Linked DNA regions of Homo sapiens. The protein of the gene in region 2 interacts with the protein of the main gene of each other region in a biochemical or structural test. Each region holds a gene or a part of one and is shown on either strand. Other genes may lie near its edges. The genes, in order: RAC1, CHN2 and ERBB3.

Region 1 (3,651 bases), about 23 Mb from region 2:
ACGTTTCTCCAACCTAGTAATGCATGAGAACTTGGTTTGAGTTTAGTACAGACTGAGGACAACAAAAATCAATATAACCTCTTATCGATTCTTTATTAGAATTTTGTCTTAACCCTCCGGAGAGATCCAAAAGCATACAATAGATTCTAACATATCTTCGATGACAAATGCCACTGAAACACTCCACGCTACCTGGTCAAAAGCAGGCGTTAAGTTCAACGATGGTGAAGACAGAGGTCAGGGAGATCCTGAGGGGGGGCAACAACGTGCTCCTCCTCCCATGGCAGCACCCACCAGAATCTACAACAGCTGGCACAGCCGGAGATGTTCTGCACTGTCCCTTACCGCAAAGGCAGGCGGGAGCCACGGGCACTTTCAAGTGCTCCATCCGAGTTCTCAGACACAGCCTAGTTGAAGCCACAGCATACAGGAAAAGGACCCGTCTGTAAATGATGCCTGCCAAAGGGCTCTCCCAGAACATAGCCGGGCCTCAGGGTTTTAATGCTGCCAGAACATTCCAAGTCTCCTATGCAGAAATGTTCCTATCTTCCACCTAGTTCTGGGAGACTGGTTTGAATGTACAGACTTGCATTATCAAAATCAGCACTGTTGCTGACACTAAGACCTCCAATTCTGGGCTACTTTGTAGGTCTGGGGGAAGCCACCCCTTAAGGACAAGCGTTTTTGAGACGGAGTCTTGCTCTGTTGCCCAGGCTGGAGTGCAATGGTGAGATCTCAGCTCACTGCAACCTCTGCCTCCTGGGTTCAAGCGATTCTCCTGCCTTAGCCTCCCAAGTAGCTGGGACTACAGGCACACACCACCACGCCCAGCTAATTTTTTGTATTTTTAGTAGAGACCAGGTTTCACCATGTTGGCCAGGCTGGTCTCAAACTCTTGACCTCAGGTGCTCCACCCACCTTGGCTTCCCAACGTGCTGGGATTACAGGCATGAGCCACCACTTTCAGCCATGGACAAATTTTAGAAGTGACACTTCCAGTGTTTATCACAATGCTGTCAATTCATTTCTTTGTTCCAATAAAAACTGACAAACTCGCTCTTCCAACATAGAACCCTGGAACTCTTTTAAGAAAAGCGCTCACGCCTCTAATCCCAACACCTTGGGAGGCCGAGGCAGGTGGATCACGAGGTCAGGAGTTCAAGGCCAACCTGGCCAAGATGGTGAAACCCTGTGTCTACTAAAAATACAAAAAATTAGCCGGGCATGGTGGCAGGCACCTGTAATCCCAGCTACTCGGGAGGCTGAGGCAGAGAACTGCTTGAACCCGGGAGGTGGAGGTTGCAGTGAGGCGAGATTGTGACACTGCACTCCAGTCTGGGTGACAGAGCGAGACCCTGTCTCAAAATGAGAAAATTATTTTAATTTCATCTCACTCAAGCTTTTCTTTTTTTCTTTTTTTTCTTTTTTTTTTTTGAGACAGAGTCTCGCTCTGTCGCCCAGGCTGGAGTGCAGTGGCGCGATCTCGGCTCACTGCAAGCTCCACCTCCCGGGTTCACGCCATTCTCCTGCCTCAGCATCCCCAGTAGCTGGGACTACAGGTATCCGCCACTGCGCCCAGCTAAATTTTTTGTATTTTTAGTAGAGACGGGGTTTCTTTTCTTTTTTTTTTTTTTTTTTGTTTTTGAGAGGGAGTCTCGCTCTGTCGCCCAGGCTGGAGTGCAGTGGCACGATCTTGGCTCACTGCAAGCTCCGCCTCCCAGGTTCACACCATTCTCCCTGCCTCAGCCTCCCGAGTAGCTGGGACCACAGGTGCCCGCCACCACGCCCGGCTAATTTTTTGTATTTTTAGTAGAGACGAGGTTTCAACGTGTTAGCCAGGATGGTCTCGATCTCCTGACCTCGTGATCCGCCCACCTCGGCCTCCCAAAGTGCTGGGATTACAGGCGTGAGCCACCGTGCCAGGCCACTCAAGCTTTCCTGACTTAACATTCAAAGAGCACATTAGTTTCCACAGCTATCTGGGTTTCATCTATGGGCTACTGTTGAAGATTTGTCCTCCCAAGGACTTCATATGGTGCCAAATCTTTACCATGGGAGAGGATCATCGAGAACCAGTTACAAAAATGCAGCTTCCAAAGAGCCTCTGATCGTATCTGTGGCATGCTTTCGATTTTTAAGAGCCTCTTTTTTGATGGAGAAGAGACACACACGACAGGAGCGAGCAGTTCCACTTTCCACCCGGCGTTCGTGCTATGCCATCTGCCTGTTCCTTCCTTGTTCCTTCTTCGTCCCCAGCTAAATATAGCTTCCCAAAACCCTGTCTAGTGCTTCTGGTACTCACTTCCTAGCATCCCCTCCTCCCGGCCGTCGCTGTCCTGACGCTTCACATACAGAGGCTGTGCTGGCTGACCCTGGCTGGGAGGCTCTATTTCTTCCCCGTCCTCGTAACACTCAAGAGGACCTGAGAGGGCACCACCGGTGTCTCTCCAGGGTCTCTCAGTTTCCTTCCTCACAGGTCACTTGTGTGTTCTGGAGCCTCAGGCTGTCTCCGGTCACCGGCCTATGTTTCCAGTCAACCTGAGCACTGCTTTCCCCTTTCTGACTAACCCAGACTCCCGCGTGCCTGTTACACACGTGGTGCCTTCAACGCCTTTGTTACTCCTGCATCACACACCACTCCCTCCTCGGTGGTAAGTGTAGCCAGGGCTGCTCTTCCCACAGCCTCCTGCCCACTGGTGGAACCATCCACAACAGATGGGTCCACTTTCCATGGAGTAAGACAGGGCGGGCATCTGGACAGCTGAGATCTCACTACAAAAAAGTAGTGTTGTTTCTACTTCGTTTTATTCTCTTCCAAATGCTATCCACCTGGATTTTACTTTCAAGTTTGGAATTTTAAAACACACAGACATTCTGGCCAGGCGCAGTGGCTCACGCCTGTAATCCTGTAAAAGGGTCAGGCAGCCCTGACGTATGAGAACCAGCCTGGCACTCGCAGCTTCGCCCTGGTGGAGGTGTTACTATTGAATAGAATAATCTCGCAGAACACTAACATCAGAGAAGGTCACCTGTGTGACTGTGCTGAAATAGGACCAAAAGTAAGTAAACTTTAAAAAAAACAACTCATAATCGTTTCTAAGTAGTGACAAATCCAAGATCATCATACAAACCACAAAAATCACCAAATATCCCCTGCTCCCGGCCAGTAAGAGTGAGGGCCGAATTCCCACAGTCCCCAGGTGCGTGTTTCCCTCGCGGCGAAGAGTAACAACTCTAGTTCTGCGGAACCACATGTGTGTGCCTGGTGCTCTCTGGCTGCACTTGTAACAGCCAACCTCACAAAAGCTGAGGCCTTTTGAAACTCAAAACTGCCAAGCTGAACACCACAGTTTTTCTTTTTATCTACCATCACAGGAGTCTAGCCCACCACTTTAAAACCTCTAGCACTGGCCAGGCGTAGTGGCTCACGCCTGTAATCCCAGCACTTTGGGAGGCAGAGGCAGGCGGATCACCTGAGGTCAGGAGTTGGAGACCAGCCTGACCAAAGTGGAGAAACCCCCGTCTCTACTAAAAATACAAAATTTGTAATCCCAGCACTTGGGGAGGCCAAGGCGGGCGGATCACAAGCTCAGGAGATCAAGACCATCCTGGCTAACATGGTGAAACCCCGTCTCTACTAAAAATATAAAA
Region 2 (3,651 bases):
CTTTCTTGAAGAGGAGGAAAGGGAAGTAAGCTAGACAAATTTTCTTTTGTTTTGTATTTTCCTCAGGAATGCAAAGATTAAGTTAGAGTACAAATGCAGAAGGATAACATTTTTAAAAGTGCCTATCACAATATTTATTTCCTAATTCCCTCTATCCTTAAAAAGTAGACCTTCCAAGCTGAAGCTTCTGTCCAAGGAAAGTGAGGTCAGAAGCAGCCTGTGGCTTTGTGTTTCAAAATCGCTTCTTAAAGGTGTACGGCAGTGATGGCCTGGAAGAAAAAGGCTTTCTGGCTTCCCAAATTTTGATTTTAAATCTCAACAGCTGATGTCTGGAGGTCTTGGAGCAATGCTCTTCTGAGTGAGGATGAATGTTCTGTGAATCCCCGGTTCTGGTGGGAGGGACTGAGGCAGAGCCCAGTCTCAGGGGGTCTAACTGGCCCTGCATAGCAGGTGTGGATTGGAACCGGGAGGCCAGTTTATTGGGGCCTGGAGCAGAGGTGTTGGAGCTTTGATAGTGAGGTCACTGGACCTAGGAACTTTGCGGAGGAGCCTCCTGTGCAGCCTGAGCCAGGTTGGAGAGGATGGGACAGATGGCCTGGGCAAAGAGCCCTGGGGGCAGCCTTGCGGATGGGTTGGCGGGTGGGTTGGCAGTGAGTGTGGGGGTGGGTGTGGGGGGAGGGACATGCAGCAGGAGAGTGGGAGGGGCAGACAGCATTGCCAATATTCCAACACATAAGTAGAAAAGACAAAAGCTGGGATGTCGAAGACACAGCCCGTGGGCCAGAGTAACAATAGCAGGACAGGGCACGCAGAGGGACCTGCCCCAGGTCACTCCAGGAGAAGGGACAGGAAAAGGGGTAGTCTCTAAACAAGGCAGTTAACCCAAAAGCAGCTAGATTTTTTTTTTTTTTTTTTTTTTTTTTGGAGAGAGTCTCACTCTGTAGCCTAAGCTGGAGTGCAATGGCGCGATCTCAGCTCGCTCACTGCAACCTCCGCCTCCCAGGCTCAAGCAATGCTCCTGCCTCAGCCTCTCGAGTAGCTGGGACTACAGGCACACCCCACCATGCCCGGCAAATTTTTTGTATTTCAGTAGAGATGCGGGGAGTGGGGGCGGGTCTCACCATGTTGCCCGGAGTGGTCTCGAACTCCTGAACTCAGGCGATCAACCCGCCTCGGTCTCCCAAAGTGCTGGGATTACAGGTGTGAGCCACTGTGCCCAGTCAAAAGCAGCTAAGTCTTATGTTTCTTTTTTAATTCTTGATTTTGAGTATGCATACTTTTTCTATTTTTATTTTTAATTGATATATAATTATTGTACATATTTATGGAGAACATGTGATATTTTGATACATAAGTACAATGTATAATGATCAAATCAGGGTAATCAGGATGCCTGTCACCTCAAGCATTTATTGTTTATGTTAGGAACATTCGAAAGCCTCTCTTAGCTATTTTGGAATATATAATAAATTGTTTTAACTATAGTCACCTAGAACTTAAGTTTTAATTCACTTGAATTGGCAAGTTTAAGTGATTGACAGCGTCAAACAGTGTCAATAACTAAATTAAATTCAATCATTCAAAAGAAGAAAATGACAATTTTGTGCACCTGAAGACCAGTCTGTGGCTTGTCATCCCCTTTATGCATCATTTTTAAAAGTCCAAATATCTCCAACCTATAATATCTAATATATTTGTATGACTGCAACTTGGTAAGAAAAAAGCAAGCATGCACAAAGACCAGAAAGAGATGAAGAGAAAAGGTTAGCAATGATTCTCTTTCATGGTAGAACTATGGGTATTTTCCCTCTTCTATTTTCCTTTATTTTCTAATTTTCCAAGTTAATTGGTATTAATTTATTAATTTTTTTTTGTACAAGGTCTCACTCTGTTGCCCAGGCTGGAGTGCAATGGTTCAGTTGACCTTCTGGGCTCAAGTGATCCTCCCACCTCCCACCTGTGGTCCTGAGTAGCTGGGACCATAGGCATGTGCCACCATGCCTAGGTAATATTTGTATTTCTTGTAGAGATGAGGTCTTCCCATGTTGCTCAGGCTGGTCTTAATCTCCTGAGCACAAGTGATCTGCCTTCCCTGGCCTCCCAAAGTGCTGGGACTACAGGCGTGAGCCACTGTGCCCAGCCATAATTTATTTTTAGAAACAGAAGTAATACCTGTGCACAGCAGAAAATTCCAATTTCAAAAGTTGAAGGTATAAAAGAACTAAAAATGCAAAATTCCTCTCTCCCTAAAGGTATCCATTGTCAATAGTTTCTTGTGATTCCTTCTAGGAATAAATGTGTATGTGCGTTTCCTGAATGAAGCATGTATTACTTTTTAAGTGGAAGAAAAAAACACCCTTCATTTTTTAAAAAAATAAAGGGAAACACAGAATCTGAAGGTTTTAGGCTAATTACCATCTAATAAAAGATGTTCCTTTTGGTAGTTAAGAAAACACTTCTTTAGTCTCAAGACTCTCATATGTTTTACATGAATTGGGGGTAAGAAGATGAGAATTAAAAAGTTATTTGACAAAACTTTTCTGCAAAAAGAAAATGCATAATAAACAGCTCCTTTTAGAATTCACATGCAAAAGTGTATATGGTAGGTTTTCATTTTCTTCTATTTTTTTAAATTAATTGTGCTATCTTCAAGGAAAAAACAAATAAGCATACTGAGGAAAAAAAGCCATACTACAACATAGATTAGACAGTAGGGGCATGGGGTAGAGAGGAGCGGAGGCCAGTGCCCCCAGGCAGGCATTCCAGAGGTGCTGGTCAAATTCCCAGGGTGCTGCGAGGAAGGTTCTGAAATGCAGCTGTGGCAATTAGGAAGGTGCACGGGGCTGGGACCCCTAAGAGGGTCATTAATCATGAAGATGAGGCTCTGACGGGTAAGGGAATAAGAGGAAGGTTTGAGATTGGCTGTGAGAGCTTGGAAGGTAGACTCAAAAGAGACGTTGCCTCACAACGCCTCCAGGTTGGACTTGGGAAGAAAAGTGATTGATGCATCTCCTCTCCCCTGGCCCGTTCTGCCTGCCCTCTGTGTTGTGCTGTACACACCATAGGCTTAGACTGCGAATTATTTTTATGGTCATGCGTATTTGCTGGGCAGTAGGTTTTGGAAAAAGTGAAACAAAACAAGAGTTGAAATTAAGAGAAAAATGGAAAGGGGAGTATTAAGGCAATTTGGCTACTACACCCGAGCCAAGAGATATCATCATTTGGGTTTTATGAGACTGCAGAGAAGTGGGATGCCTATCCTGACCACCGCACCGAGGTACACGAAAGTCAGGAACTCACATACAGTGTACCATCTTGGACACACCAAACGTTTCTATTGTGTTGAGGTAGAAAGTGAAATGAAACACTAACAGAGAGCCTCCATTATGAAAAATGCTGCCTTCCGTTTCAAGTACTTGCCAGGCACTCAGTAGCTCTTTTGTGGAGGGAAAAGTAGCGCAAAATGCTCTACCTCCCACATTAATGGAAACCAAGCACTTGACTACTATAAAAAATATTAATTCAAAGGAGTCTGATTGCATTTATTATCATTAAACTCTTGCACAATAGACATATGATGATGACCATATATTAGAAAATTTGTAATATTTAAATGACACATGAAATGACTACTTATTAAATTATTAAAAC
Region 3 (3,651 bases), on a different chromosome or scaffold from region 2:
TCACAGAATTCCTCCAGGCTTCTCTCACCTTGGCAATTTGTACTCCCCAGTTGAGCAGCAGCTGTGGCCCCAGTGCCCCCCGGTGTTGTCTCACATGATCCAGCAGAGAACCCAGAGGCAAATATTGAGTGACAAGCTGCAGAGATGACCCTGGGCATAGTCCCAGCAGCCTTACAATGTGGGCATGGTCCAGGCTGCCAATGGCCAGCATATGCTAAGAGACACAAAAGGTATTATCTAGGAAACCAACAGGTTCACATACACTCAGCATGTGCACAGCCAGCCCAGGCCCCCCCACCCCCAACATTCTGGCTAACATAGTAGCTGCTGAGAAGCACAGGACCCTGCTTCTACATGATTGTATCTAATATTGTCCTCTCTCCTAGCGGCATACAGAATTTCCTTCACTTACATCTGTCACAGCTTGAAAACTCTGCCGTCCACTCTTGTCCTCAATGACTTTAATGCAGACTGGAATCTTGATTGATTCACCCTCAGGGATCCACACTCCCTGGGAAGTTTGGGGCAGGAGTTGGCATAAGGTCATTCTCCCTAGGTCAATCCTATGCAAAAATCTTTCACCCCTTTGCCCTAGATGCCTTCCCCACCTCTCCAGAATTCCTATGGGTCACTCACTTTGTGCACAGTTCCAAAGACACCCGAGCCAAGCACTTTAAGCTTCCTTAGCTCTGTCTCTTTGAAGATTCTGGCCAAGACTTTGTTAGCCTTCTCACTGGGGTCCAGAGGCTCTATGCTCTGAGGAGCAAATGGGAAGGAGTTACTCAGGAAAGGCCATTCCCATGTCCCACTCCAACCCGCTCCTCATAGGTGAATGCCAAAAGCAGCACAGCTGAAAGGGCAGGAAGAGGAAGCACCGTTAGTCCTGGAATGGATTATAGGCATATTGAGGTACAGACCCTGAGAACTGAGGAAGTTATTTGTGCTCATGAGATCAGGAATCAAAGGGGTTGGGTTTTCCCTTTGATGGAGGAGCACAAAGTGGGGAAGGGGACAGCTAGGGAGAGTTGGTAGTACTATTACCACCTTGAGTACCTTTTATACAGTGCTCTGTGCTTTCCAAAGCACTTTCACATACATCATCCCCCTTTACCCTTACAGCCATCCTGGAAGGACAAATGTTATTTCCTCTGTATAGATGCATAAACCGAGGCACAGAGAAGATAAGTAACTTCTTCAAAGTCATGTGGCAAATTAATGGCAAAATCAGGACTAGAATGCATGCCTCCCATTTCTCTGACCAGTGTTCTTCTAGGGGACCACACTACTTCCTTGAAGAAAGGGATCAAATCTCTGGGGAAAGAGGAGGGGAGTGACATTTATCCCATCACTGACCCCTGGGTGCACAGGGTACCACTCAAAATTAAGCTATAAAGAGACTTCCAGGACATGCAAAAAAAGAAAAGAAAAAACAAAAGTAAGCTAAGTACTCACCTCACCCCGTTCCAAGTATCGCCTCATAGCCCTTTTATTCTGAATCCGGCGCCCACGCCAGTAGAGAAAAGTGCCGCCCAGCATCATGAAAATCACTACCAATCCTGCTATCACTGTCAAAGCCATTGTCAGATGGGTTTTGCTATGGGATATATAGAAACCCAACATTATCCTGGGTTTGCATCTTCCTTACAAATGTCAACTATACTTGTGTTGAAGGTATGATGCTGACCTGGGGCAAGAAATTAACATTCACATATATATCCTTAAGCACTGAAGGGACCAACCTAAATCTGGACCAGTCTTAGACTACTGAAAGTTAATTTTAGGAAGGGAAGTCCAGAAGCCTGCATTCTTGAGTCCCAAGTGTCCAGTGATAGTGGACTGCATACATAAAAGGCCAGAATGAAGACAGCCTCCCTCTTCTCTCCAGGTAACCACCTCTCTCCCAACTCCCAAATATCCCCAGTTTCCAGAATCTCCAACCCCATCATACCCGATCAGCACCAGTGTTTGTCCTAAACAGTCTTGAAGCTCTGGTCCTTTACACCTAGGGAAGAAAGTCACCACCTTAAATGAGAGCTTGGACAGCAGAGGCTCAATTTCAACAGCCTAACATATAAAAGCTTGTTTCAGAACTTACCGTGGCATCCCATCCTGGAGCCCAGAGCTGATCCCAAGACATGGCCTCCACCTCCAGCTCACTAGCTCTCCCCAAGCCCCTCTTCTGTGAAACTCCCTTGAACTGAGGTTATTCCAGGTTCCCAAAACTGTGGTGTAATTTTGTGCTGTTACTGATTTTCCCTTTCTCCAATCCTTCGCTACACAGCTGGGAGTGATTCTTTTTTTTTTTTTGAGACAGAGTTTCACTCTTGTTGCCCAGGCTGGAGTACAATGATGCAATCTCAGCTCACCGCAACCTCTGCCTCCTGGGTTCAAGAAATTCTCCTGCCTCAGCCTCCCGCGTAGCTGGGATTACAGGCATGCGCCACCACGCCGGGCTAATTTTAAATTTTTGGTAGAGACAGGGTTTCTCCATATTGGTCAGGCTGGTCTCGAACTCCCGACCTCAGGTGATCCACCCACCTCGGCCTCCCACAGTGCTGGGATTACAGGTGTGAGCCACTGCGCCCGGCCAGCTGGGAGTGATTCTTGAATCACAGCCTCTCTCTTCTTTCTGCTTCCCTCACTCTAGTTCTGTGCTCCTACCCTTCCACCTGACCCCCTCTCCTTATTATCCCATCACTGACCCCTGGGTGCAGTTCTCATGGCAGGGCCGACATTCATTCTGAACATCTGGGTACTTGTAGATTGGGCCCTTGGCACCTAGGACTCCATGGGGGCAGCTGCTCACACAGTGGGGCCCATCTCGAAAATGGGCACATTGAGCACAAGTATCAGAGCCCTGAGTGGAAGAGAGAAGGTCAGGAAGAATCAGATCCCAAGGTCAATTCCATACCTCCCAGCAAAGACCAACCCAGACATTCAGGATCTTCTATCTGCAGGCCCTAGCATTATCTGGCCTCTCTGTGCTATCCTTAGCCATATCATTCCCCAGATGCTCCAAGTATTGCCCCTTCTCTGTCTCCCTTGGAGATCCTGGTGCTACTAGTATACCGAGCCATTGCATGTGGCAGTGCCCTCCATGGGTTGGCATTCCGGGTGGCAGGAGAAGCATTCGGCCTCATGGGCAAATTCTCGAGGCTCCCTGTAGTGGGGAATAAAGGGAGGGGGGGGTCACTTCCAAGTCCTGACCTTCATGCTCCGATCTCACAACCACAGGTCTCCTACCTCAATCCCACCAAGGCACATGCAGAAAGCTGTCTAAAGACTTTTATTGTATGCCACCTGAACAGTTCCATTGCAGGGCCCCACCCCCACCCATCCTTGACTGGCTCCCCTTACTGTACCCATTCAGAAAGTTGCAGTGGGTCACACAGACACCTCCTCGGCTATAATTTCGACAGGACAAGCACTGACCAGGGCCTGGGCCCCAGCATCCCCCAGAGGAGCACAGTGGGTCACACACTTTGCCCTCTGCCACTGGAAAGGAAGGGGTGGGTTAGGAGAGGAGTCTGAGGACTCCCAGCAAGCCCTCTCTTCATTATTCTTCCTCGTTACTGCTTCCAGCCTAACAGCCCCCTTCTCCTTGGTTCCATCCCTCAACCCTACTCCCACGTCTAGGGCAGAATAGTCCTT

What was found.
Region 1: the proteins of CHN2 (region 2) and RAC1 form a complex in vitro, tested with the Homo sapiens proteins (2 studies listed by BioGRID).
Region 3: the proteins of CHN2 (region 2) and ERBB3 interact in a test that uses a peptide from one of them, tested with the Homo sapiens proteins (one large-scale study listed by BioGRID and IntAct).

What each region holds. Positions count from the first base shown.
Region 1 is NC_000007.14:6,395,024-6,398,674, reverse strand, and holds part of RAC1 (ras-related C3 botulinum toxin substrate 1), read right to left. Parts: intron 14-3,651; coding exon of another isoform or gene 1-13. UniProt on the Homo sapiens protein: Plasma membrane-associated small GTPase which cycles between active GTP-bound and inactive GDP-bound states.
Region 2 is NC_000007.14:29,393,732-29,397,382, reverse strand, and holds part of CHN2 (beta-chimaerin), read right to left. Parts: intron 1-3,651.
Region 3 is NC_000012.12:56,093,608-56,097,258, reverse strand, and holds part of ERBB3 (receptor tyrosine-protein kinase erbB-3 isoform 1 precursor), read right to left. Parts: intron 3,496-3,651; coding exon 3,363-3,495; intron 3,161-3,362; coding exon 3,070-3,160; intron 2,858-3,069; coding exon 2,703-2,857; intron 2,003-2,702; coding exon 1,949-2,002; intron 1,595-1,948; coding exon 1,453-1,594; intron 757-1,452; coding exon 637-756; intron 512-636; coding exon 413-511; intron 215-412; coding exon 29-214; intron 1-28. UniProt on the Homo sapiens protein: Tyrosine-protein kinase that plays an essential role as cell surface receptor for neuregulins.